Homo sapiens: one gene and its partners. The protein of the gene in region 1 interacts with the protein of each later gene in a pairwise test. Each region holds a gene or a part of one and is shown in the gene's direction. Other genes may lie near its edges.

Evidence for each region.
Region 2: the proteins of FCHSD2 (region 1) and MNS1 interact in binary tests that used the Homo sapiens proteins (3 or more experiments, as listed by UniProt).
Region 3: the proteins of FCHSD2 (region 1) and CIMIP6 interact in a two-hybrid assay, tested with the Homo sapiens proteins (one study listed by BioGRID and IntAct).
Region 4: the proteins of FCHSD2 (region 1) and SH3BGR interact in a two-hybrid assay, tested with the Homo sapiens proteins (one study listed by BioGRID and IntAct).

The regions. Positions count from the first base shown.
Region 1 is NC_000011.10:72,838,319-72,845,344, reverse strand, and holds part of FCHSD2 (F-BAR and double SH3 domains protein 2), read left to right. Parts: intron 1-1,604; exon of another isoform or gene 1,605-1,812; coding exon 1,813-1,896; exon of another isoform or gene 1,897-2,016; coding exon 2,017-2,194; exon of another isoform or gene 2,195-2,503; coding exon 2,504-2,724; coding exon of another isoform or gene 2,725-2,728; intron 2,729-3,761; coding exon 3,762-3,891; intron 3,892-4,385; coding exon 4,386-4,468; intron 4,469-6,470; coding exon 6,471-6,554; 3' UTR 6,555-7,026. UniProt on the Homo sapiens protein: Adapter protein that plays a role in endocytosis via clathrin-coated pits. Contributes to the internalization of cell surface receptors, such as integrin ITGB1 and transferrin receptor.
Region 2 is NC_000015.10:56,441,131-56,448,156, reverse strand, and holds part of MNS1 (meiosis-specific nuclear structural protein 1), read left to right. Parts: intron 1-1,213; coding exon 1,214-1,316; intron 1,317-2,273; exon of another isoform or gene 2,274-2,486; intron 2,487-3,483; coding exon 3,484-3,713; intron 3,714-4,302; coding exon 4,303-4,519; intron 4,520-4,619; coding exon 4,620-4,727; intron 4,728-7,026. UniProt on the Homo sapiens protein: Microtubule inner protein (MIP) part of the dynein-decorated doublet microtubules (DMTs) in cilia axoneme, which is required for motile cilia beating.
Region 3 is NC_000002.12:54,340,864-54,347,889, forward strand, and holds part of CIMIP6 (ciliary microtubule inner protein 6), read left to right. Parts: intron 1-2,856; coding exon 2,857-3,010; intron 3,011-7,026.
Region 4 is NC_000021.9:39,447,043-39,454,995, forward strand, and holds the start of SH3BGR (SH3 domain-binding glutamic acid-rich protein), read left to right. Parts: upstream 1-4,927; 5' UTR 4,928-5,054; coding exon 5,055-5,099; intron 5,100-7,953.

The DNA.
Region 1 (7,026 bases):
GATTCAAGTGATCCTCCCACCTCAGCCTCCCAAGTAGCTGGGATTACAGGCACGTGCCACCACACCCACCAATTTTTTGTATTTTTCATAGAGACAGGGTTTCGCCATGTTGCCCAGGCCGGTCTCAAACTGCTGGCCTCAAGTGATCCACCCACCTTGGCCTCCCAAAGTGCTGGGATTACAGACGTGAGCCACCTCACTCAGCCTCTCCATAGCTTTTTATAAGGGCAGCAGTTTATTTAAAAGTGTACTACCTCCCTGGTTTGCTGTCACATACATTAACGTCTGGTCGTGTTGATACTTTTTAGGTCTTGCCATGAAAAACATTTTTATTACAAAAATGCCTTTTGCTGGCATATTCAAGGCATAGTGTGGTTTCAGAGTAGTGAAGGAATTCCATTGGAAAAGCTATCAAGGGTAAATGAGTGGGGTTTTTTCCTCAATATTATTTTTCTGTCTCAGGGAGCTATGGCAACATCCAGAATCTGGATTTTGATGAAATGTTTTAATGTTCATAAAATGGGAAATTGATCTTGAAAATGACCCCTTTTTTGCCTTATTTTTGTTTGTGTAACTTGGAGTTAATTTTACATTTTGAGATTGTGAGATTTTAAAAACTTTATGGTTTTAGGTGATGGTTTTAACCCATCTTGGGACTTGGGGAAAGCTTTTAAGACTGTTTTCTAGAGAGCCAGAAGCCAGCAGGCCCCTGTCTATTACACATGACAGGCAAGACTGTTAGGAAGCAAAGCCACACGGACTTTCCAGCCCCTCTGTGGAGCCTCAGAGCGTTTACAGATTTGGCAGTCTCAAGGGCAACATGTGGGTGGCTGATGCTGGTGGATTGCTGCTGTCAGGGATAATAAAACCATTATGGTTAGCAGCTTGTACGGTAGCACGCAAATGGATCAGCTCAGTCTCCACACAGTTAAGTTGGAGCATAAGAAATCCAAACCATGACTGATCTCAATCATTTCCTTTCCTACAATTTTTTTCTTTTGGCCACTGCTTTACAGTGATTCCAGATCAATCCTAGGCACTGCACCCACTATCATCAAATTCACGTACATAGTTCTTTGCATTTTCACTGCATGCTTGTCCATGGGAGCCCTCTGGTAGCAGTTCCAATTCAGTGCCTTCTCGTTTGCCTTTGCTTCCCAAATCATCACAGTTCTGTGCTTATCCATCCCACATTGACTCACATCCTCCAGAAAATGGCAGGATTGTCATTTCAAAGAAATGGAGGCATCAAGTTGAATAACTTGATACAGAAGCTGGAGTTGGAACCCAGGTCCTCTACTTCCAGGAAGTGCTCTCTTTTTTTGTTTGTTTTTTTAGAGACAGGGTCTCGCTCTGTTGCCCAGGCTGGAGTGCAGTGGCTCACTCATGGCTCACTGCAGCCTCAACCTCCCAGGCTCAAGCGATCCTCCCACCTCAGCCTCCCAAGTAGTTGGGACTACAGGCATGTTCCACCATGCCTGACTAATTTTATTTATTTATTTACTTATTTATTTATTTATTGGTAGAGATGGGGGTCTCGCTGTGTTGCCCAGGCTTACATGTTCTGTTCATTGAACGTCATTGCCTCTTGAGGATTCAGTTTCTTGAGTTTTTGTTATGGTTTTATTCTGTTTAGTTTTTTAAAGTAAAACTTCACCTCATTATGAAAGTTTTACAGCATTTAAATTTTTATGTTCAACATGTTTCTCAAAATCATTTCAATATTTTGATCCCCAGTTTTTGTCATGATCAGCTCACATCTGCTCCTTATCTAACCTTTTTAATTTTGTCCATGACCATCCTACACTGCAGGCTTCTCAACCAGATGAGTTGACCATTGAGGAACATGAGGTGTTAGAAGTGATTGAAGATGGAGATATGGAAGACTGGGTAAAGGTATATTCCTTTGCTCATATCGCCCTTTCTTGTGACATTTTTAGGAGTTTGTTTTGGTCTTTGTTGTGCCCTGTCTAAATTGTGTGTGTAAACTTGTTTTGTCACATGTCTTTTACCCAGGCTCGAAATAAAGTTGGCCAAGTGGGTTATGTGCCAGAAAAGTACCTACAGTTTCCCACCTCGAACAGCCTCCTGAGCATGCTGCAGTCCCTGGCCGCTTTGGACAGTCGGTCACACACGTCCAGCAATTCCACGGAAGCAGAACTCGTTTCAGGCAGCCTCAACGGAGATGCCAGTGGTAAAGACTGAAACAAGGCACTCTTTATTTGGTCACGTTTGACCTAAACTGTATTGCCCTGGAGTAAGCCTTCAGTAGGATAAAAAGCACAACTTTCCTCCTGTCCTATAATATGCTTTTCTTTATATGGTCACGTTTGTCCTGCACAGTAGAACCCTAAAGTTAATCATTCATCAGTGAGTAAAAAAATTACAACTTTAATCCTATTCTGTATGATGCTCTTTTAGTTGTCATGTGAGCATAGGGGTGGTTGCAAAAGCAACCGGCTGTTAATTATCTTACCAGATTTGTTTTTCTCTTGCTCCCTAGTATGTTTTGTGAAAGCACTTTATGATTATGAGGGCCAGACAGATGATGAGTTATCTTTTCCTGAGGGAGCAATAATCCGTATCTTGAACAAAGAAAACCAAGATGATGATGGCTTCTGGGAAGGGGAATTCAATGGGCGTATTGGAGTTTTCCCATCGGTGCTAGTGGAAGAACTTTCAGCCTCAGAAAATGGTGACACTCCATGGATGAGAGAGATTCAGGTACCTGAGAGGGGAGACAGTTGAATTAAAAGATGTTTAAAGAAAATTGCTCCCAAAGGGTCTGTGGATCCACACAAAAGTGGGCTGCAGTCTCTGCCTTACCCTCACCGGTCCTTGGTTGCCAGTGTCTGCACAACTGCATTTGGGAAACCAGAGACTTGTCAGTCAGTCCCTTGTGGAATGTGGCCATCCTCCCACACCTCCATCTTCCCACATTCTCTCTCTTCCTTGAATTGGTTAACCAAAATGCCAAATTATATGTGACATACCAAAGATCGTTTTGGTGGAGAGAAAGAAACAAACCGAAGAGGGAAGGCGTTGCTCTGTGGTTAATTTACGTAGTAAAACTCTTAGCTGGCTCTCTCTCTCCCTCACTGTCAGAGCCTCCTTGCCTAGTCCAGGTCCTGCCAGTCTATTTCAGAGAATTAATGAGCCTGCCAGAGCCCCTAATCCCCACTCAAGTGACCCTAGACTTAGTTCATCACAGGGAAACAGCCTTTAAAGGAACCTCTAATTCAGTCAGAGTTTAGTTTGTCCCCTCAGGGATCTATCACTGCAGGCCAGACAGGTAGAGGAAGAAGGAACGTGTTTGCCGATCTTGTTTGCGTGGTGATTGTGACCCCTTAGCCTAACATGCACAAAACCTGGGGAAGTCAGAAATTCAGCAAAGTATTTTATCTTCACCCCAAAAAATCCAACTTGTTCCTTTTGTTGTTGTTGTTCTTTGCTAAGTTTACTGAATTGACTAATTTGGTACATTTTCAATAGAACCCTAGAGAGTAGCTTCACTTGATAACTGTTTAAGATAAACTAAAATCAGTAATGTGATGAGATCTGTAAGAGGAAAAAGTGAAGTGCAATGCAAAATTGGAGCTTGAGGTGGTTATTTAATGCTCAGTTGCCTCTAATGAGGTTGACAAGTTTCAACAATCAGCTTAGCTTTAGAGAAAAGGCATGAGTACAGAGCAGTCAGAGAAGCAGCCAGGCTCTCCTTCCTGGAGGGGAGCACCGGGTAACCTCGCTTCCCTTTGCTGCAGATCTCTCCTTCCCCCAAGCCACACGCCTCCCTGCCTCCACTGCCGTTGTACGACCAGCCTCCCAGCAGCCCCTACCCCAGCCCAGATAAGAGGAGCTCCCTGTACTTTCCCCGGTCTCCTTCAGCAAACGGTAAGGGTTCTCCTGGGCATGGGTCTAAATGCATTTTCACTTCAGAAACCTACATATTCGCCTGAAGGGCAAAAAAAAACTGCATTTGCTTTTTTTTTTTTTTTTTTTTTTTTGGAGACAGAGTCTCTGTCACCTGGGCTGGACACCCAGGCTGGAGTTCAGTGGCATGATCACGGCTCATAGCAACCAATTCCTGGGCTCAAGTGATCCTCCTGCCTCAGCCTCCCTAGTAGCTAGGAATACAGGCATGCACCACCACACACAGCTAATTTTTGTATTTTTTCTGGACAAAGGGTATTATTCTGTCACCCAGGCTGGAGTGCAGTGGTGGGATCATAGCTCACTGCAGCCTTGAACTTCTGGCCTCAAGTAATCCTCCCGCCTCAGTATCCCAAAGTGCTGGGATTACAGGCTCAAGCCACCATGCCAGCCTTGCATCAGCATTATTGCTCAACAACTCAAGTAAAATGAGCTTCTTTGGTTTTCTCCCTTAGAAAAAAGCCTTCATGCTGAGTCACCAGGATTCTCACAGGCATCAAGGCATACTCCTGAGACCTCATATGGCAAACTGCGACCTGTAAGTCTCTGATCTTGCAGGATTATCGAATGCATAGTTCTTCCAAATTGAAAGTAAGGAATTAATGTTTCCCCGTGGCCCCTGTGTTGTTACTGACTATGCCAAACAAGGATGAACTGGGTTTGGGAAGGTAAAAAGAGCTATTGAAAAGGAAGGCCATAGAAATCAACTCATCTCGGGACATTTAATCTACACTGGAACTTTTTTCACTGAGCCACAGTGAGATTGCAAGATGATGGCTATGAAAGTGATTTAGAATAGAACAAACTTTATGAGCATTAAAGCGGGCTAATTGTGAAACACTTTTTTCAGTAAGCATTTAATTTTCCAGGCCTCTATTTGCCTCTTTGAGGAATACCAAGATGAAATAATAAGCTAACTTCATGGCCTTAAAGAGCGTTTATTCTCCGGGTGAATATATTATTGCAAAGTTACCTCTCCTCACCCTTCACTCTACTGCCATCTGCATTCCACCCACCACTGTACTCCAAGGTCATAACTTGCACGGTAATCCAGTCGGATACTTTGCAATTTTATTTTCCTTGACCCCTATTAGCTTTTGATACCATTCCTTTACCACTGGCTTCTTTTGGCTTCATTCATTCAGCAAATATGTATTGAGTGCCTTCTTAAGGACTTGAGTCTTTATCCCAAATGAGACAGGAAGCCATTGTAAAGTGGTAAGCTGGACAGTGTTGTGGCTGGTGCATTTTTAAAGCATCGCTATGGCAGCTAAGAGGCGGATGGATGGAGGGTGGCAGAAAGGATATAGGGAGCGATTAGGAGGCTGGAGCAGCATCCAAGAAAGAAGTGGTGGCAAGATGGACTGGTGGGTAAGAGTGGGAAGAGAGAGCAGTGGGCTGATGTGCTTCTCTACATTTGCCTCGTTTGCTTTCTTCCTCTCTGGTCCTACCTTTCTGTGGACCTTTGCAGCCTTGCCGCCACCTGTCTCTGCTGATAATTCTCATGGTTCTGTCACTGGGCTGCTTCTCTTGAAGTTGTTGAACGCACTCTTGCCGAATGACCTCATCTACTTCCACAGCTATGATAACCATTTATATGCCAGCAAGTCTCAGATTTATAACTGCCAATCCGATCTCTTCTCTTGAGCTTCAGATGTGTGGATATCTCAGTTTATATATCCCAGATCCCCAAAACTCAGCAAAAATGAGTTATGTTCCCTTCCAGACATGTTCCTTCTCCCATATTGCCTATCTTGGTAAATGGAACCCCCATCCTACTGGTGTTCTGGCATCATTCTTAATACCTCCTGCCCCTGCCTCCCACAGTCATTCCCAAATCCTGCCAGGTATACCTTGCAGAGAGCTCGCAAATCTTTCCACTTCTCTACTTCCCCTACTGCCAGTACCCTCGTTTGGGCTATTGTCAACTCTCATTCAGAGGATTACAAAAGTCTCCTAAGTTGCCTTCTTACTTGGACTCTTGCTTGCCTCTGATCCTTTCTCCAGTTGTTACCTGAGTCATCTTTTCGCAGATCTGATATTGCTTAAAATCCACCAAAAACTCCTCTTTTGCCTACAGAATAAAGCACAGATTTATTTTTTTCTTCTTAAAGCAGATGTTTAAACATGGTTTAACAAGGCCCTTCACAACTTAACCCTAGCCTACCTTTCTAGCCTTCTCTTTTGTAACTCTCTACCCAAGACACACTGAAATGTTTCATTTCTCTAAGCATTGCTCTCCCTTGCTTCCAGCCAGACCTTTGCTTTGGAGGATGTGCTAGGATCTTAGTCATAGGACTTGTGCCCATGAGGTTTTTAGCCTAGGCAAGAAGCTGATTTGTGGGCTTGATATTTCATTGAGAACAACTGCTTCTCAGTGTAGGAAATAGTGAAGACTAGGTTGAAAGCACGTGCTCACAACATTTCTGAGACCCCTAGGGTGCCCATGTCCTTGGACAGATGAGTGATTAGGTTTTGGGGATGCTTCAGATACTGAGTCAGGAACTGACTGACAAACTACGTAATTGTTTCCTGCTCAGGTCCGGGCAGCTCCCCCTCCACCTACACAGAATCACCGAAGGCCAGCAGAGAAGATTGAAGATGTGGAAATCACACTGGTGTGATGATGGGCTTGCCCATCCATTACTGCTACAATCAAGGCCAGGCTTGGAGTTTGGCCAGTCTTGTTTTTTAGGCACCTTTGCATGATGATGACTCTTGAACAGAGCAAAAAACAAGGAGGATTATGTGTGACTGGGTGGCCTGGTAGACTCCTCCCACGTTTTGAATATTTCGTGCCTTTTTTTTTTGTTGTCATTTTCTATGTCATTTCTCCTACCATAGCACAAATCCTAGCGGACCCTAGGAGCAAAGAGGGGGGCAGCCCTCATGCCTAACAGTGGTCTGTTTTTATATGAGACTCAAGAACAGGCCTCATTCCAGGGCACAGTCCCTAAATTACTGATCATGTGCACTCGTACAGTATATTACTGTGACCACAAGGATGTGGCAAAGATTCTCATCTTTCTTCAAGTGGCTTTTGCTCATCTGATTGAGAATTAATCAGATCATGTTGGCTACATAAGGAAACAGAAG
Region 2 (7,026 bases), on another chromosome or scaffold:
TATCCAAGAGAAATGAAAGCCTGTGACCACAAATAACTGGTACTCAAATTTCCATAGCAGCTTTATTTGCAATATCCACATACCTGAAACAACTCAAATGTCTATCAGCATGTGAATAGATAAGCAATGCGAGTGGATATCTATAATCTTAAAATAATATCCTGCAATAAAAAGGAGTAAGCAATTACTATATGCAATAAATGGATGTATTTGAAAATATTGAGTGAAAGAAGCCAGAGAAAAATGGTACCTGCACTATGATTCCATTTATATGAATTCTAGAAAATTTATACTGCCTAAGGTGACAGCAAATTAGCTTGCCTCAGGATAAGTGCGAACATAAAGGGGTAGAAGAGAGGTACCACAGGTTTATAAGGAAGTGATTGGGACGTGTTCATGATCTTGATTGTGGTGATGGTTTCACAGGTGCATACATATGTAAAAACTTATCAAACTGTATCCTTTAAACATGTTCAGTTTATTGAATATTGTAGATCAGTAAAACTGAAAACTAAAAAATATATTCAGTGATATTGTTGGGTATAAATTTAGTATATAAACATTAATTGTATTTCTGTAAATTATCAACAATTAGAAAGTGAGATTTGAAAAATAATCTACAGAAGGATATGAAAAATACCTAATGAAAAGTATAAAACTACCAAAATAAAACACAGATATAAACATCGATAGACTTTTAAAAAACCAAATAATTAGAAGGATATACTATGTTTATTGAAGACTCAGTAATGTAAAGATATTAGTACTTTCCAAATTGATTTATGAATTCAGTACTATCACAGCCAGTTTTGTTTATTGTGAAGTCTGACAAGCTGATTCTAAAATGTATATGGAAATGAAAGTATCAAGAATGGCTAAGACAGTCTCTAAGAAGATGACCAAAATTGGAGACTTATCCATGATATGTAGACGTATTATAATTTACAGCAGTTGAGATAGTGTGGTATTGACACAGGATAAGCAAACAGATGAATGTAATAGAACAGAGCAGTACTTTTCAACCAGAAAATGTAAGCCCTAATGCCCTAAAGGCATCCATTAAATATAATGAATTATTTCTCCTATGGATCTAAAATAATACCCGCTGTATTCCCTCTTTGAGTAAATTAAAAATACAGTTACTCAGTTTTCTGTGAGGTTTTCATTCTCTTATGGTCCTAACATTTAAATTTGTTTTTGTTTTTTTAAACAGCATTGAGCTTAGAGAATTGGAGAAGAAATTAAAAGCAGCTTACATGAATAAAGAAAGGGCAGCTCAGATTGCTGAAAAGGATGCCATTAAATATGAACAAATGGTAATCATGTTTCTGGTCATTATGTTTTTAGCTTCATTTAGAAAATAAAAATTAGACTTGTTTCTTAAAAAATTGTCATATTGTATAAAGAATTTACACTGCTAGATTTCTTAAATATTTGTAAATTTTCAGATCCTTAAGATGTAGAAAATCCTGCGTGATTTCATTTTTAATATTAGAGCCTTTCAGAAACACATTGCTGCTTAGAATGACCAGCTATATTCAGTAACTCCCAGCATTCTTTATAGTCTCTAACTGATTATTCACTGACAAAGTAGTACAGTACAAATTGTTACCATGATAAGTGTATTTTAGAATGTTATGAAATTTTTAATTATTTAAATGTTTTTAAGAGTAAACTACTTGATAATTTTATGTAGGAAACTTTCCAGTTTTATAAAAGCCATCTCTTTTTCTCATGTTTCTCTCTGCTTTTATCCCCTTTTCTAACTCCTGATATGGTACCAAGTTGAAGATAAGAGTTACTCTTGGGCAAAGGAATCTCAGGCATACTCACTAGGAGTGCTTTGCTGTATGAATATATAATAGGGTTTACTGAATTAACAGTTAATTAAAAGGGTGCACATCATCCCTTGAGCTCTCATTATCAAACAGAAGGGCCAATTATATATGAATGTTTATATACACATACATATCTATTGTGTATGTCCACATAAACATATGTACACACACACACACTCTTATGGGGTGATATCAAAATACTTAACCAGTGCAGTGCAATATGGGTATCAATTAAGAATAGATACCATAAATGACACATATATGTGTGTGTTGCGTGTGTACAATTGTGTTAGTATAGAAAATGTCTAGCGGGTACACAGCATGCTGTTAACAGGAATACCTTTAGGTGTGGCAGGTGATAAGAAAAGGTGGAGAGACTTCATTTGCTAAGCCATATAGCGCTGTCCTTTGAAAAAGAAAGTAGCACAAACAATGTCCTGTTTGTCCAGTGGTTTGCAGTTTTAATTATCCTGATAGTTGAAGTTATTCAAGGTAGTTGTAGACGTTTTAATCTGACTCCTACGAGAATTGCTGCTATTTTCCAAATAAAAATTGATCCACAAAATGAAAGTCGAATACTACTAGGACTTGACTAGGTGTCATGCAAGTACTAGTTTTGGCTTTTTCTCTGAGCCTTAGTTTTCTTATCTGTAAAATGAGAACATTGTTTTCGGTAAGTGTGTGGTAATCTACACATAAATGTTATTGTCATCTCATTTTTTAATAAAGAATTTAGTATAGCATGTACAAAGAAGATAATCAGAAACATTTTTGGTCAAGTCATATTATCAGAGTATATGTTAAAGGCTTCAGTGACGTCAGGAATGACATTCAGTATTCATATTTTAATCTGTTTACTCTTTATGTTTGATGCTGCTGACCATTCCATCATTCGGGATGTGATCATAAAAGTAAAGCGTAGTTTAAAAAATTGCCTCAGTATATTTCATTTAAAACTTATTTTATTAAATGATTTGAAAAATGCTCAAAAGAAATAAGGGGTTTAACCCATCCAAGAAGAAAGATTGTCTCTTGACAATGGGAATGGTCTTGAGTGAATTAAAAGCTGTAGAAAATAGGCACAGTAGCATCTGTGATTCTTTTCAGATAAAGGGCCTTTAATAAATCAGAAAGGGGAAACGTCAAGGGCCAATGGCAGGAAAGAAAGTTTAGGCTAGGAGAAACTTAAGAGCTGCTCAAAGCCATTTAATAGCAGACCTGTAAGAAAGAGGCAGTACCATCTTTAAATAGCAGCTGATAAACAATGAAGCTAAAAACGATGAAAATTGCCTAGCTCAGTTTATAAATAGAATAATAAGATAATGACTGCTTTAGCAGCTAAATAGTTATTAAGAAACTACTTACAATTGTATTCATTGTTTTTTGAATGTGGAGTTATTAATAATCCTTATCAGGTATTGTCCTGAGAGAGCTACTTGAAGGGATAGGAAAGCTGCTTTAGGGTCTGACTTATTGTTCACACCCTTCAGGTAATAATAACTTACTTTTGCTTTTTAACCTAGACAGATGAAAAAATTTATTTTATGTAAAAGACTTTATAATATTCAATAACATTGGTGTAAAATATACTATCGTACTATGTTCAAATTTGAAAACGGAAAGATCAATTTTGTTTTAATAACAGAAACGTGATGCTGAAATAGCCAAAACCATGATGGAAGAACACAAGAGAATAATAAAGGAAGAGAATGCTGCAGAAGACAAACGAAACAAAGCGAAAGCACAGTACTATCTTGACTTAGAGAAACAACTTGAAGAACAAGAAAAAAAAAAGCAGGAAGCTTATGAGCAGCTGCTAAAAGAGAAACTCATGATTGATGAAATTGTTAGGAAGATCTATGAAGAAGATCAGTTGTAAGTTTATCCTAACTTTCTTACATGTCTAAATGTTTACTTTAGATATATCACAGGTTTGTTGTGAGGAACTGAAGCACCTAGAACAGTGCCTAATACATAGTAAGTGCTCAATAAATACTAGCTATGAAAACATAAATTGGGACCAACTCCTTCTCATCTCCGTTAGCATAATTAATAAATGAATTATCTGATGATTAATAAATGCTGAAGTGATTGAATGACCTAAACCTTTGTTTTTCTTATATATGCCCATATCATATGTCAGAGGACAGGTATTCTGATAAATTTTTTTGGTAGACAGCTTAAGTATAGAGTGCTGCAAAGCTAATGTTAACAGATTGTAGCCTTTATGAAATAAGATGCATAAAACTTCATTAATAGGTTAGAGGAGACTATCACAGTATTCTACCCAAAGAAAAATTCATACCTGACATTATATTTAGCACACAGTAAGCATTCAAAATGTTTGTTGCATGCACGAATGAAAAAACTATAGTGTTTTTCTGTACATTATTATGAACAAAATGAAATTACTTTTTTATATTTTATTGTTTACTATAAATCTGTACTTGTTATTGCTTTTCAGGGAAAAACAACAAAAGTTAGAAAAAATGAATGCAATGCGAAGGTATATAGAAGAGTTTCAGAAAGAGCAGGCTCTCTGGAGAAAAAAGAAACGTGAGGAGATGGAAGAAGAAAACAGAAAAATCATAGAGTTTGCTAACATGCAGCAGCAAAGAGAAGAAGATCGGATGGCAAAAGTTCAAGAAAATGAGGAGAAAAGGCTACAGCTTCAGAATGCGGTATTAAAATAACCACTTCTTTAACACTAGTAAAATTCTGAAATATTAGTTACAGAATTTGGATCCTATAAATATTTATGTTTTTTAAAAAATTTAATAGTTGACACAGAAATTAGAAGAAATGCTGCGGCAACGTGAAGATTTGGAACAAGTGCGACAAGAATTATACCAGGAAGAACAAGCTGAAATATATAAGAGCAAGCTAAAAGTAAGTTTCAGAAATGGAAAGAATGATTAATGTAGAGAAGAATATAATTTTGAGATGAAGCAGAAAAGAGATAGTACATTTAAATCCAACCATACTGGTAATTACATTATATGTAAATGGTATACTACAGTTAAAAGACAGAAATTTTCAAGCTGGCTAAAAAGATAGACTCAGGCATCAATTTATAAACTTACCATAAAAAGCATGATGCAACTATGTTGTCTGTAATCACAATTTAAAAATGAAGATACATACTTTAAAAGCAAAAGGATGGTGAAAGATACGTAACATACAGACACTAGTCAAAAGTAGGTTGGAGTTGCTACGTTAATATGAGACAAAGTCAACTTCAGGACAAGCAATTCATGATAATACAGTAAATTCATCTAGAAGATGTCATAGTCCTAAAGGCGTGTGAACCTAAATAATAAAGCTTCACAATACATGAAGCAAAACTGACAAAAACTGAAAGGAGAAAGAGGCAAATCCACAATCAGAGTTCAAGATTTTTTTTTTTTTCTTTTTCTCTTTCCAACTTTTACTTTAGGTTCAGGAGGTACATGTGCTGGTTTGTTACAGGGGTAAATTTGTGGGTCATGGGGATTTGGTGTAACATTATTTTGTCACCCAAGTAATGAGCATAGTACTCGATAGGTAGTTTATTGATCCTCACCCTCCTCCTATGTCTACCCTCAAGTAGGCCCCAGTGTCTGTTTTCCTTCTTTGTGTCCACGTGTACTCAATATTTAGCTGTTACTTGTATGTGAAGACATGTAGTATTTGGTTTTCTATCCCTGCATTAATTAGCATAGGCTAATGGCCTCCAGCTCCATCCATGTTGACGCAAAGGATATGATTTTGTTCTTTTTTATGGCTGTGTAGTATTCCGTGGTGTACATGTACCACATTTTATTTATCCAGTCCACCATTGATGGATATCTAGGTGGATTCCATATCTTTGCCATTGTGAATAGTGCTGCTATAAATACACACATGCATGTGTCATTATGGTAAAATGATTTATATTCCTTTGGGTATATACCCAGCAATCCCATTGGGTATAAACCCAGCAATCAAATGGTAATTCTGTTTTCATTTTTTGGGGAGTCGCCACAGTGCTTTTCACAGTGGTTGAACTAGTTTACATTCCCACCAACAGTGTATAAGCATTCCTTTTTCTCCACAACCTTGTCAGCATCCATTCTTTTGTGACTTTAATAGCCATTCTGACTGATGTGAGATAGTATCTCATTGTGGTTTTGGTTTGCATTTCTCTAATGATTAGTGATATTGAGCACTTTTTCATGTGCTTGTTGGCTACATATATATCATTTTTTGAGAGGTATCTGTTCATGTACTTAGCCTATTTTTTCTTTTTATTTATTTATTTTATTTTATTATTATTTTTTGAGATGGGAGTCTCGCTCTGTCGCCCAGGTTGGAGTGCAGTGGCGTGATCTCGGCTCACTGCAAGCTATGCCTCCCGGGTTCACGCCATTCTCCTGCCTCAGCCTCCCAAGTAGCTGGGACTACAGGCACCCGCCACCATGCCCGGCTAATTTTTTTCTTTTGTATTTTTAGTAGAGATGGGGTTTCACCGTGTTAGCCAGGATGGTCTCGATCTCCTGACCTCATGATCCACCTGCCTTGGCCTCCCAAAGTGCTGGGATTAGAGGTGTGAGCCACCGTGCCTGGCCAGTCTATTTTTTAAATAGGGTTGTTAATTTGTTTACGTTCCTTAGATATTATGGATATTAGACCTTTGTCAGATGCATAGTTTGCAAATATTTTCTCCCATTCTGTAGGTTGTCTGTTTATTCTGTTGATAACTTCATTTCCTGTGAAGAAACTCTTTAGTTTAACTAGGTCCCACTTGTCAATTTTTGTTTTTGTTACAATTGCTTTTTGAGTCTTCATCATGAAATCTTTGCCAGGTCCTATGTCCAGAATGGTATTTCAATGCACAGTTCTCATTAATCTATAGACTAGGTAGTCAGAACCGCAGGATATCGTATTGAAAGCAATATCAATAAACTTGACCTGACATTTAGAGAATACTCCACCCAACAACAGCAGAACACAAATTCCATTCAAACATGGAACCTTCACCGAGATAGATCATATTCTAGGACATAAAGGAAGTCTCAATAAATTTTCAAGGTTTTAAATAATACCAGATATGTTTTCTGACTACAGTGGAATTAAATTAAAAATCAGTAATGAAAATATACCTGCAGACTCCTTAAATATATTATAATTAAACAATATATTTCTAAATAAGCAATGAGAAAAGGGGAAT
Region 3 (7,026 bases), on another chromosome or scaffold:
CTAAGGTGGGAGGATCACCTGAGTCCAGGAGTTTGAGGCTGCAGTGAGTTGTAATCGTACCACTATGCTCCAGCTTGGGTGATGGAGTGAGACCCTGGCTCAAAAAAATAATAATAACAAATAATAATAATTAAAGTCCATCAGCCATTTCCTAGTGGTTCGCTTATCCCAGAGCCATTTTTCCAGTAACTTGAGTATTAGCAAAATAAGTTTTTGATCAACAAAAGTAGATGATATGAAGTGTTTGTGTATGCTTTACAATCTTATCACAGAAGAACTTTCTCAGAATATTTACTGCTATGGTTTGAATGTTTGTCCCCTCCAAACTCATGTTGAAATGTAATTTCCATTGTAACTGTATTAAAAGGTGGGACCCTTAAGGGGTGACTAGGTCATGAAAGCTCCACCCTCATGAATGAAATGAATGCCATTATAAAAGGGCAAGTTTTGTCCCCTGTTGCCCTCTTTTTGCTCTTCTGCCTTCCACCATGTGAGGATGCAGTGTTCAAGGTGCCATCTTAGAATCATAATTACCAAACCTGCCAGTGCCTTGATCTTGGACTTCCCAGCCTACAGAATTGTGAGCCAGTAAATTTCTGATCCTTATAAATTACCCAGTCTAAGGTATTCTGTTGTAGCAGCACAAAACAGACTAAGACGTGCACTTACAGCCTCTATTTTCACTTCTTAAATAATTTCATTTGGTTTGTACTTAGCTGGTTTTGCATTCCACAGCAGGTTTGATACAGCAGTGCAGCACAGAAATTAGAGGTGTGCACAAAGAGGTTGGGGTTTGAATTGTGGCAGTGCAGCAGTCTGCTGGTGATATATCTTGGGGAAGTTACTTCATCTCCTGGCAGTTTTCTCATCTGTAAAGTGGATGTGCCTGCCTCATAGAATTGTGATGAGCTTATATAAGTAAGACAAGACCTATAAATCCTAGACCTTGGGGTGTAATAAGCACTATTATAATTGTGAAGTGGAGTGGAGAAGAGCTGCCAGAAGCAGGCGCTCTGACAACAGTAAGATGTGACTATTTTCAGCCAGATAGTGAGAAGACACCATCTGTTTAGTAATCTGTTCTAGAATTTTCCTAGGATCTACATCAAGTAGTCTTAATTTTTTAAATTCACCTTTTAGCCCATTCTGAAAAGTGAAGCATTAGCCAATCTATTCTCCAAAATCCCCTAGTTCCTAAATTTCTGTAATCTCTGCAGAAATTACCCCAGTTACAATTACCAATTATTCCATTACTCCTGCTTACAATTTGTCATTGGCCTAAAAACTGGCACTCTTATAAAGTGACAAAGTGAAGTCCAACTCTCTCATCAGCTCTTCAGGGCTTAGTTCTTTGGTATGTGTTCATCCCATCTTTTTCAAGTTAACTGTAATTTTCCTTAACAACCTCAAGTTGAATGAATAGTTCTGACTTTCCTGAACCAGATTCTTCTCTCCAAACTGTTAGCCGGAACACAAAAGATAACCTTTTTTGGGGCTGTAGGATTTCACTCAGCTATGAACAATTTTTTCTAGAAAACATTATTTTTGCTGCCTTTGACAATTGTATAAATTATCAATTTGTAAAATTTTATAAATTTATAAATGTCTTCTAAGTTTCTTGACAATCTTCTGACAAGCTGACTCCATTAATTATTTTTTAAATCTAATGTTGTATATGTCTTTTATACATGCCTGTCTTTTTAGAAACTAAGCTCATTTGAGAGCTGACTCCCTATGCAGCCACATAGGTTTTTTTTTTTTTTAAAGAAACATCTCCCTTTTTGCATCAATGTAGCCTTAATTGTATTGTCAGTATTTTACCTATTAGAATTGCATATTTATCCCCCTTGAATCATAGTTTAGAAGTCTTTGGCTATGGAACCATAGTTGATTTTCAAAAGGCAGACTTGCTTCCTTATAGCCCACGGTAGGTGTTTGATTATACCGGAAGTTACTTTCATATCCTAACTGTATTCCAGGAACTCCTAGGTGTCATAGGGTTTCTCAAGCATTTTCTTACTACCACCTAATCAACCAGTTTTAAAATATTTGGTCAGAATTAAGTTGAGTAACAGTTCCCCTCTCTACTCTCTCAACTTCCAAGAAATCAAATTGTCATACATGCTAATGAAGAATCTCAGTTTTCCCTTTCTTGTGTACTTAGGTTTTAGTACCAAAATTCAGTAACATTAGAGAGATTTCCCCTTAGAACAAAGTTTATCAAACTGAGTCATTAGTGAATGACAAATCAATGAGTTGCAGTCAGCAACGTGAAATGAAATAGGAAAGCAATAAAATAGAATAGAAAAATAGTTAAGCACACTGCATATAGTAAGTATTTTGTGAAACTTTTGTTTCAGTTTTATGTATGTATAGCATTGTGTGCTCTTGTATGACATAAAATGTATTTCATGGTTCAGGCTAGGGACTAAAACTTCTGAAAACCACTATTTTTAGATGATAATACATTATTTGTATTGTCATAATGAAAAGATTACAACATAATTTTTTAAATTAAATATTTTATACATACACGTGTACATATATAATAAAATCATAGTATAAAACAAATACAGCTATTTTGCTGATTTTTACCACTTCATTTGTTGATAGAAGGAAGGTAGCTTAAGAATTCAGCAGCTGTATTTTAGCTAAAAATTTGACAACTCATTTTCCAGTGCCTTCAAAGAAATACATTTTTTGTGAAAAGATATTTCCAGATTTCAGAACTCCACATTAGTACTGGGATATCCACTAACTTGTTAAATTGAATTACTGAATATCCATAGACATCAAGCAATACATGAAAATGCCCTACAGTATCCAATATTGTGTTTCCAATTATTTTCTATAAAGGGTGACTGGTGGTCACATGGTAAAGCACTGGAACCTGTCTTCCTACCACCTTACGACTCTAAGAGCACCCAGAGGAGTGACTTCCAAAAACCATCGTGTCCACTGGTTTTGCCAGTCAAACACAGCAAGATGCAAAAGCCTTCTTGTGGAATAGGTAAGGTTTTGCAGTGGTAAAAACCTTTTATGTTATCTCAAATTATTGCTACCAAAACTAAGATGTATTAGATGTCCGGACAGCTCCTGAAAATAATTACTTCTCTATGAAGTTGAAAATACACACACAGCAAATACAGCCCTTGGGAAGTTTGTTATTTCTTCCTAGTGGACAGTTTGTCTCCAAATGCAGTTAATATGACATAATGAAAATTGTATTGATCATTAATAACACCAGCCTCAAAGTCAGAAACTTAGTAGCATCCTGCTCATTGTTGTTGCCACCACATTTTAAGAGTTGTAACTATTGTCACTTCAAGGAAGGTAGCTGATGAAGAGGGCTATTAGATAATCTGTAACAATGACTTGTCCTTTAGAAAGATAATAAAGTTTCCACTTCTGGTTCAGGATAGCAGACTGAGCACACATATCTAAATTCCCTGCCTTCCAAGACCCTATTACTATAAATAGTAGCAAAGCAATAAACTCTTAAGAGTGAAGAGAATAGAAGGAAGAACTTTCTGGAACGTAGCAAAGACTAGAAGCCTATTGATAGATAAAAGAGAATAAAGAAGCAATTTCTAGAAGGAGATGCAGCAAAGAAGAGACAATCTGCCTGGCCAAAGCCCTGACTGAGCTACACGCCGAGCCAGCAGGCATAGTGGAAGGCAAAAATGAAAAGCGGGTAGGAGAGAGTCAGAGAGTTACTTCAAAGCCTGTCCCTTAAATAAAGGCTCCAGTCATGAGCACTCCACCCTATCCCAACATTAAGACTACTAGAGCCCAGTGTCTTAGCCAGATGTCAACTACCACACCAGTTATTTCGGTAAATCAAGCTGATCCCCCGTCCCCTTCTTATAAATGGACAACCAAAGATTAGAATTATGCCAGTTAAAAAAAAGATTTGGAGAATAAAGTCACGGAAGTATCACACAGCATAAAACAACAAAACAAAAGCTTGGAAAATGAGAAGGAAAGCAAAACAGAAGATCTGTTTGGGAAATCCAACTTTTCTGGAGCTCCAGAAAAGAGAAGAGTAAAAATGAAGGTAGATAATTAGCAAAACATAACATTTATTGAGCACATACTATTTGCCAGGCACTTTATGGAACTTTCTAAATATTAACTCATTTAATTCCCACATGAACTCTATGCAATATAATAGTGTAGTAATACTATTAATATTCTTATTTTTCAGATAAGAAAATGTAGGGAGGCAAAATTATTTTTTAACATTTTAGTGTTTTTGGCTGGGCTTGAGAATTAAATTGACACAAAGATCAACAGGAGAAAAGCATACAAATTTATTTAATACAAGTTTTACATAGCAGGGGAGCCTTCATAAGGAAATGAAGACCCTAAGACACAGAAAGAACACATATACTAAATTGGACAAAGAGTAGTACATTGTAAAAATGGGACAAGGCAAAGGAGTTTGGGCTAGGGTAATTGGGTAGAGAAATGACTAGGAAGATAAGGGTGAGTTTAACAAGGTTTACTTGTCTAGATTTCCCCTCACCTCAAATTCCTGTGCTTGGTAAGAATGATGCTTTCCTTCTGGTATAGGGAGGATATCTTTTACGTAGGAATTTCATCTCCTGCTTTTGAGAAAGAGAAGGAAGGTCAAACTGTTTTTCTTGCATCTGCTGTTTTTCAAGTGCCTTTAACTCAATATAGTCAATATGCCAGAGTGGCATTTTAGAGTAGCATGTTCTGAACTCCTTTGAAAGCAAGCATGGAGTTGAAATAACGTGCCCAAGGCTAGAGTGAATAATTGGCATTTGCACCCAGCTAGCCTGACTCCAGTGCATATACTCATAACCAGTACTGTATAGTACTCTACACAACCTCTAAAATAATAACAAAGTTTCCCTACATAAAATGCATTAAAAGGGTCTACTGGGTGCTTCTAAGTGTGAAGGGGAAAAATATGCACACCCTACATATCATTACAAAATTGCAAAACAGTCATCATCAACAGAAGATTCTAAAAGTTTCCATAAAGGGATAGAAAAATAAGTCACCATCTAAGAAATAAGTATCAACATGGAATCAGGCAGCACTGATGCAAGAGTACAATGGAGTTAATATCTTCAAAGTTCTCAGGGGAAATACTTTTTGACCTAGAAAAGGGAATTTATTTGGCACGGATACTAAACCATTTTTTTTCAAGTGGCACTGGGCATTACACCCACTGAGAAGGAAATGAAGTCCTGGCACAACATTTGACCCTTAAATGAACAAAATGTATGTAATTATGTAATACTATGCATGCTGTTTAGTAGTTTTCAACTTTTAGGCTCAATCTATAGACACGAGTTTAAATATGGTTACACAACAGAATGTATCTTAGCAGCTTTAATAAGAAAAGTAAGTGCACAACTGATAGAAGATGAGAAGTAGAAGAGAAGAAGGGTGCTAACATCATTATTTGCAATATAGGTAATCAGTTGATACTATCCAGTGGGGGTGAAACAAGGAATAGATGTTTAAGGTGAAAGGTCAAAGGAACCAGTCTAAAAACCAAATTTCTCTAACCCTGGCTTATTTACTGAGCTTCAAGTTCACATATCCAAACACCTACTTAACATCTCCTCTTGGATAGCTAGTCACCTTTTCAAACCTGATATGGCTGGAATAGAATGTTTCATTTCCTCCATCCAAACTTATCCTCCACTAGTCTTCTCCATCTCAGTGAATGCCACCTCCACTCTCCCACCAGGTGTTCAAGTTTTGATAAGCTAGAAGGCATTATAAAACTCTCTCCTTTCACTCCCTGCCCCCACATTCAATCCATCAGCAAATTGTGACACCTCTATCTCCAAAATAGACCCCAAATCTATTCCTTTCCATCTTCACTGTAACCAGTGCAGTACAGCTGCTATTACCCTGCTTCCTTTCTTCTTTCTCCATATATGTTTTCTGCATCATTGTCAAAGGATCTTTTTAAAAACACATGTGATATTCTCCTCCTTTAGATTCTCCAGTTACTTCTCAACGTTCATAGAATAAATTTCAAATTCCTCACTATGGCCTACACGGCCCTTTTTGATCTGTCAAATTTACCTACATTATCTTCTATTGCTCATAATGTGAGGATTTAGAGACAGAGAATATAACTCAGACCAAGGAGGTAGAGACACTCTCTGAAAGTTAAGCTTGTTTCCAAACCAGATTTATGTCTATGTACTTGTTACTGTATTTCCATATTTTAATTATATATTCTTGTAAATTAAAATCTGAATAAGAAAAGAAAACAGTTGTTTCTATAAAACATTCAAAATTGAATGTACAGACTTGATAAAAGGTCAATTGCTAACTTTAAAAAATGCTACTTAGGTATAGGCAAAATAACTAAGAGGAGTTGGACTGAATTTTTAAAATCTTGAAGGATTTTGCATTCATTTTGCTTGAAATTTGTCTTTACATTTTCATTCTGTGTGAAAGAAATAGAAACTGGAAATGATGCATTAGAAGTGTGGTTTGTACAAGAAACACAAAGTGGAATTCCAGTCAGTGGACACCTCCTCAAAGAAAATGGCTTGGCATGCCAATAAAAATTTGATGAACTGGTTAAAATATGTATCTACATATGGCATATGATTTTTTGCTTTAACTTTCTTTGGTAGCCAACCAGTCCCTTCCACATAACGAGCAGTTATGGTACTTCAGCTACTCAAGTTGAAGGGATGTAGAAGAGTGGTGAAAGATGACACTGGAGCGATGGGCTTTTTCTGGGTTCATAAGGCAGGGCTCAGTCATTTCATAAGGGATCCCCCAAAATCAGGGTCTGTAGATCTACTTAATTTGCCCAGAGAGAAATCCTCCAAACCTCTGCCTAGGATGGAGGACAGAAAATCCAGGAGTCCCATAAGCAGTCCTCTGCAACATCACCTTGTCCCGCTGCCCCATGCTCCCTGCCTCAGAGGTATGTGATGCCTCCCGATTCCCAGGCACTCCTGGAATGCTGTGGCATTAATTGGCTTAATTTTTACCCCATTCCCTTCCCCCATAGCA
Region 4 (7,953 bases), on another chromosome or scaffold:
TGGTGGGCCATGCATTTCTAGAACTCCTTAGGTAGGGAATTATCCGTATAAGATGGGTGCCGGTTGTTTTTGCTGGTGGTGGTGGGCGGGGCAACATCTCCAGGTAGGCAAACATTAGACAAATGTCACTCTAGACTTGACATTATGGAAAGATGGGCTGATGCTTGGTGGGTGGTGGTGGCCCCATGACAGTAACGAGAGCGGAGTTTTGCCATTGCGGGAGCATCCAACCCTGGAGCTCATGACTGGAGGAATTGAAAGGTAGAGTTTCCTGAGAATGGTTTCCTCCTCTTTTCTACCAGCTTTTCCCAGTCTGTAGACATGATAAGTCACTGCAAATCTGCCCTTGAATCTTTCTTTGCTTTCGCTTTTGCTTTTTTTTTTTTTTTTTTTTGAGACGTATCACTCTATCGCTCAGGCTGGAATGCAGTGGCGCCATCCCAGCTCACCACAACCTCCGCTTCCTGGGTTCAGGTGATTCTCCTGCATCAGCCTCCTGAGTAGCTGGGATTACAGGTGTGAGTCACAACACCCGGCTAATTCTTTTTGTATTTTTAGTAGAGATGGGGTTTTGCGATGTTGGCTAGGCTGGCCTTGAACTCCTGACCTCAAGTGATCTGCCCGCCTCGGCCTCCCAAAATGTTGGGATTTCAGGCATAAGCCACCGTGCCTGGCCTTTGCTTTTGCTTTCGAAGGGGTGTTCTTTTCTGTGTACACAATGGAAGGAGAAGAGCCATGGCCTTTCACTATTCTGGGGCCATCTCCATCATGCCACATAAAAAGCATAGCCTTTATTTCTCTATATTAGGTTCCTAGGTTCCTAGGGATGTCATAACAGACTACCACGAACTTAGGGGCTTAGAACAATAGAACTTTATCTTCTCACATTTCTGGAGGTCAGAAGTATGAAACCAAGTTGTCTGAAAGTCCATGTTTCCTCTGAAGGCTCTTAGGGAGAATTTTTTGAGTCTTCCAGCTTATGGGGACTCCTGCTATTCCTTGGCTTGTGGCAGCACCACTCCAATTTCTGCTTCCATCTTCACAGGGTGTTCTTCTCTGTGTCTCCCTGTCTTGTCTTCTTATAAGGACAACCAGTCATTGGACTTAGGGCCCACCCTAAATCCAGGATGATTTAATCACAAGACCCCCTCAACTGATTACATCTGTAAAGACTCTATTTCCAAATAAGGTTACATGCTGAGGTTTGGCTGAACATGAATTTTGGTGAACAATATTCAACCCACTACAGTTATTATGGTAATCATTTCCATCATTCTACATAATAAAGACGTGTCTTTATTTGTCATTTTAAGTTATCTGTAAAGTTATGTAAATCAAAACATATCATCTGGTATCATTTATCATGAGATCATCTGGGGGTCTCTATGAAGTTTGTAGCCCAGTACCTCATGTCTTTAAATCAAAATTAATCAAATCAAAAAGTGATGTTATTTGACTTGTTAAAATATACTCCAACAGACGGACAAAATGAACTCCTGTTTCCTAAAATGAGATGCACCAAAAACAGAATGTCCTACTCGGGAGGCTGAGGCAGGAGATGAATGTGGGAGGTGGAGGTTGCAATGAGCTGAGATCAAGCCACTGCACTCCAGCCTGGTGACAGAAACAAACAAAAAACAAACAACAAAACAAAACAAAACCTCCAGAATGTCACAGCCAGAAGGATGAGGGGTTAGTTACGTATTTTTGCATTATTAACTGCTATTAAGTAAGCAGAAACCAGCTTCGAAAAAGCATAGCCAACACAACTTCAGCTGGAAAATTTCCAACTGACCCCGATAGACTGCCTGATGCCAGCCAATGGAAACATTCCCTCCCTCAGTATGCGCCCCCACCCCCAAACGCCTTGCAGACCTACTACAACTCCAGTTGGACAAAGGACTGGTCTTATAAACATTCTTTATTGATAAACAGCTGCAGACCTCCAGCCAATTTTGGCCAGCTTATAGAAATTGCACATAAAATGTCTTTGTGCCCTATAGTTCACCTGTTGATATAAAGAGCCAAATTCCATCCCATTTTAATGCTAGAACTCCACCCCAAGGTGAACATGGAATGTATGATACATATATGTTTACCCACTGCACACATGCCTGAATTTCCTCATAAATATTAGTAGATCCTCTGCAACCTTGCTCAGTATGTATGTAAGGCTGACTCTGTAAGACACAGATACCAGCTCCTTCCTCCCTTCTGCAGCATGTGCATTTTTGGTTTTTTCTGTAAGCTGCATTCCCCAATCTGCAGGTTGTATCTCCCCCTAAAAATAAAATCTCCTTTCCTTCCTCCGTGGATCTCCTGGTCTTTGTGAACAGACATAAACAGCAAGCACTGGAGATGTTGAATGGTTGGCTGCTTGCATCTTCACTAAATTATACACCTTCTTTCTGAAGTGGATTTTGTAAGTCAGGGGTTCATTGAGCTTTATTTTAAGATGCATTTGGAATGTTCGCTATTCCTGTTAATTATGTTGAAGCTCGTTTGTGTCATTAGTGTAATAATACATTAGAAGGAATCTTTCAGCTGGAGTTTTCAGATTTTTAATTTGTACATTTTTATGGTCATTTCGAAAAGAATAAACTTAAAAAAATTCATAGTGAAAAGGGGGCACTAGGAATTTGAGGGTAGCATCTCAGGAGCTTCTCATGTGGTGTGGAGAGGAATGGGTGAGGCTTAAGTCTTGGATATGCCATTTCCTATTCCCATCATCTCTAGTTCTGTGTCCTCATGGTGAGTGGGCATAATAATGGAACACAGTTTTAGGGTTCTTATACAGGTTAAGGGAGTGGCTTATGCAAAGCACCTAGAGCAGATCTGGCACATGGACAACACCTACAAATTGTTAGCTGTTATTTGAGTAGGAAATTAATTTCTCCCCAGGGTTTGCAGATGGAGGAGGTGTCATTATTGAGGGCAGTTTTCACCTGATATAATCAAGAGATGCGTATTCTCTAGAGCACCTGAGAATCCAGCTATAGTTTATGCTACTAACTTACAAAGTCATTAGAAAATATGCCCCCACTTTCTTCAAGTAATATTTGGAGAAATATGGCATGCTTATGTGGCAGACTTTAAGGTGTGAAAATATATAATTGTATGAAAAAATAATACGTACTGTAGAAATTTTGAAAATGCAGAAAAGAAAAACTGATCTGTAATCCTTGGTGTGCTTTAAAATAAAATTTATAATTCTACTGACTTAAATTTGGGGAACCATTAATCATCTTCATCAAGGACCTTATTTTTGGAGCAGCTAACTTTGCATGTTGAAGCCAAAAGTTAAATGTTGGTAGTCACCTCAATCATTCATTGTGATGTAGGGGCATTTAAGCGATATTCCAGGAACTGGGATATTCCGGGGACTGGGATGTCTTTTCTCGTTGCAGGCACCTACCTGAGGGGGTGGGAAACATGCCTCTGGGGCTCTGGGACTCAGGTGAAGAGGGAGTACAGAAGCCTGGGAGATTCCTCTCTGCTTCGGAACGTCGGTGCCACCCAATCCATGATGGGCAGCAGGGGATTTTAAAAAGGGAGCCGGAGAACAGAGAGAGAGAGAGACAGTAAGAGACTCAGTTATCTAAGCTAAATATCCCCCAAGTGCTTCTTGAAAAACTAGCCCTTTGTCCCTAATGCCCTTGATCTTGATTTTGAAATCTATCAGAAGAATTTGCATAACTGGCATTTGGGCTTCTTTGCTAGATTTTGTATTCCTTTAATTTAATTTGTTTGTTTGTTTGATTTGGTTTTGTTTTAGAGATAAGGTCTTGTTCTGTCACCCAGGCTGGAGTGCCGTGGGTGTGATCATAGCTCACTGCAGCCTCAAACTCCTGGCTAAAGGGCTCAAGGGATCCTTCCACCTCAGCCTTCCAAGTCGCTGGAAATACAGATACAGGCGCCTGCCAACATGCCTGGCTGTTTTTTTTTGTGTTATTGTTGTTGGTAAAGTCGTACCTCAGTATGTTACCCAGACTGGTCTTGAACTTCTGGGCTCACACAATCCTCCTGCCTTGACCTCCCAAGGTGTTGGGATTACAGGTGTGAGACACTGCCCCGGACCTTCTCTAACTTTTAACACAATTCAAAATACCTATATAAATATTAACATGTATAAACACAAATATATATAAATAAACACAAAATACCTATGTAAACAAAGAGCCTGTTATAAACAGATTATTTTGGTTTTTTCCCCAAGCACTTTAAAATAGTTAATAAACTTCAAGTCAGTGACAAGTAAATAAAATAGTGAGACAATTGGCTTGTTGCAGCCATGAGTATTGAGAAGCCAGCGGCTATTTCCCTACCTCCCTGGATGTCAGTGAAACTTTAGATGGCCCATGGCTGGTCAGTTTCTGTTCTTTAGGAGAAACAGGTGGGAAAGAGAGCACACTGGAAACAGCCACTCTTAAAGGCATTTCTATTGTATGACAGTTTACTTAAAAAATTTTTTTTAACCTGCCAGGAAAAAAAACAAAGTTGCTCTTTACTTAAAGGCCTCTGTGGCTATTCTGACCCTTCCAGTTTATTTGTTTGCCAAAAGCCCTTTAAACCCAGCCTCCTCCTAGACTGAGGTGGTGTTTTCTGGGCTTTTCCAGCTCCCAAGAGCTCCTCCCTCACTTCTTTCGCCTCCTGCTGCTCTGTTACCGGGGCCCCACCTCCCTTGGCCCCAAGGCATCTCTGCACAGGTCTCCGATTGGTGCACAGCACAGCCTGGCCTTTTAGGGACTGTTGTCGCGCGTTTAAAGTGATAGGGAAAGGGTCCAGTGGCTGCTTTTATCGACCAATCAAATATTTTCCTGACAGATCCCAAAATATTCCTGGGCCAATGGAGGGAGGAGCCCAAGATGCCTCTGCTGCTCCTTGGAGAGACAGAGCCTCTTAAGTTGGAGCGGGACTGCCGGAGCCCAGTGGACCCCTGGGCTGCTGCCAGCCCCGACCTGGCACTTGCTTGCCTGTGTCACTGTCAGGATTTGTCTAGCGGCGCATTCCCTGACAGGGGTGTGTTGGGGGGAGTCCTCTTTCCAACTGTCGAAATGGTTATCAAAGTGTTTGTTGCTACATCTTCTGGGTCCATAGCGGTAGGTGTCTGGTGGACTCTTTCTTCCTATACTCTTTTCTGAATAACTTAGGGTTGGAAATATGGCCAACGTTGGCCTTCAGTTTCTTTTTTGCGTGTAGTCAGCTGTGGCTCTGCAATAAGTATGTGCGCCCTTTGCTTTCTGCATTTGATTTCATAGTGTTGAAAAAGCATGGAAAGGGTGTAATCTGGATGGCTGGGTGTGAAAAGGGATTCGAGTAAGGAGGCGTGCTTGACACTAGAATTTTTAACATGTGATTTGTGTTGTGTTGCCTTGTGAATATCATAGAAGCAGGGACTTTTTTGTATGTGTTTCTGCCATTCATTCTGCAAGGCTTAAACTAATTTAAAATTGTAAATAAATGATACTTTGTGTAACACTGTTTGGAGCGGATGATGAACCAGATTGCTAAAATGACTCTGGGGTGTAATCACTTGTATATGCCATGTAATGATGTAACCATACTGAAAGTGTAAAGTTAGCATGTGTAATCCATTGTTTGAGGAAAGTGATGTCACAGTGACCAGAGCAGACATCTCTCAGGCCACAGTTATAAACACTCCAGGCATTCAGACGGCCCCAAAATAAGAGCTGAAAGCCGACCTTCATAACCAGTGCTTTGTCTAATTTTCTTGAGACCATCTACCTCTTCAATTCTGGCCTTCATTCTGTGCAAGCTGGACCTGCCGTAAGAAATAGGGGTGATGAAGTGACACATTTCTCTTTGGAAATGGGTCAGACTTTGATTTTAGGCTTGAACCTATATAGTGTCTGTCTGTCTGGAACTGATATTTCGACCAGCATTTTAGCAGCAGTTAGGAAGGCTGTGGAGAGAAAAAACAGTTTTATTAAACCCAAGAGTTAGAGACCAGCAAGGCGGCTGTTCCTTTTATATCTAGTTTCTGGAGGATCTCAGGTTTCGGCTGGGATTTCAGCAGCCACTCTGCCAGAAACAGTACCCAGAGTAAGCCATTGGCTGGGGTGACAGCCCCAAAGGCAGCCGCTGAGTGCCACCACTCCCAGCCCCGAAAGTTCATGAGGTTTCCAGAGAGGGTGAGAAGAAAGCAAGAGAAAATAGCTTGGCTGTCCCTTTTGCTAAGTACAACTGAGCAGCTATTGTTTTAGTGATCTCTAGAACAAATTAGCCGAAAAAGATGAGAACACACTCCAAATGTGAAACTCTGCGAAATCTTTTGTGGCTATTGATGACTGCTGAAACTTTCAGTTGATCTAGAAGGAGTAAATTTTTTGGCTATTGGATAAAAAAATTTTTTTGGGGGGGAAAATGGTTTTGGTGGGCTCTAAATACGTTGTTGATGCTCATTGCTAAAAACTTTACCTCTTACCAGCCAGTCCTCTATATATTCTGTAGACCTGGTCTACATATTCTTCAGAAGACAATCAATAAGTTAATGGATTTTTAAGGTTTATTTGATGTCCTGTGTTCTTGAAGTTTGGGCCCATAATTTAGTTAGCTTTGGATGACCTGGAGAGGCAATGTTCATCCCAGGGTCTTGGAAAAGCCATTAGTTTTGGTTCCCTAAGCAAATGTTTCAGTGCCACTTGTAACTGTATGACCTTGGGAAAGTTATTTCACCTTGTTAAGCCTCAATTTCCTTGTCTGTAAAATGAGGATAAGAATAGTGCCTACATCATAGTGTTGTCATGAGGACTGATGAAATGATGTGCGTGGGTGCCCCGCATGGTGTCAAGTGTTTATCAGCACTCAAGAAATATTCTAATGATTAGTGAATGTTATTTATACTTACTAGCTGCTATTAGTTAATATTAGTTGCTACTATAATTGTTATTATTAGTTAGTTAATGAATATTAATTAGGATTTCAGTTACAATTATTAGTTACTATAATTATTAGCTAATATTATTTAGTAGATCAGGGTCTATGATCAGTATGTGTGAGAAGAATTTTCCAGAACCACATACATGAGAGAATTTCTGCCTTAGCCGTAAGAATGAGAATTGATTATCCCTGCGATGTCAGTGCTAATGATTTTTCATGGGTAGAGAAATTTCACTCAAAACTTCTTGGCAGGAAAACCCTAGAGTGGCTTCTTGTGCCCATGCTACTGTGTGGCAGTCAGTCTGCCAAGCCTTTCCTACTTATTTCTTCAGCCTGTACATTTAAAAAATGGATTCTTGCCTGATACCTCATCAGTAAGGGCATTCTGACTTCTGTTGGTTGAATGAAATAAATGAGAAAGGAAAAGCAAATTGTAGTCTCCTTATGAGGAATTAAATACATGCAGCTGTGTATTACATCTCAATTTTAATAGTTGACTTCAAAGAGCTGTGGCACATTTTACCACGTTCTGGACGGATTTGGGTTAAGAGACCCTGGGGAGCAGGAGAGGGCGCGTGACTTCTTCTAGGACCCTCCTCTCTTCCAGAAGGCCACAGTGGGGCAGGGGGGACAAAGGGAGAGAGGACAGTCCCTGCCGTCTCCAAGATGCACAGCCCCTGGAACCGATCTTTAAGGACAGACCCTCATAGTGGCTCTTGGGCTTCACAGTCCTTTCTCCATTTTGATTGACAGTGTAAATATCGTGGGAAAAATATGACTCTTGAATTAGATCGTTGAGTGTCATTCTTGGAAAATTCATTCATTTATTGGAGCCTCAGCATTGTTATAAAATAGCCATCCAAATACCTACCTAGATGGCCCGTGTGACAGTGCACTGGGATGGTAGTGTGCTATGTGGTGCCTGACAGTGCAGGTTTTCAGCCTAAGGTACAAAATGCTTTTCCATGCATCATCTTCTTCAGTTCCCACCAAAACACTGTGAGGAAGGCATTGTTACATCCAGTTTGCAGATGAAGAAATTGGAGATCAGAG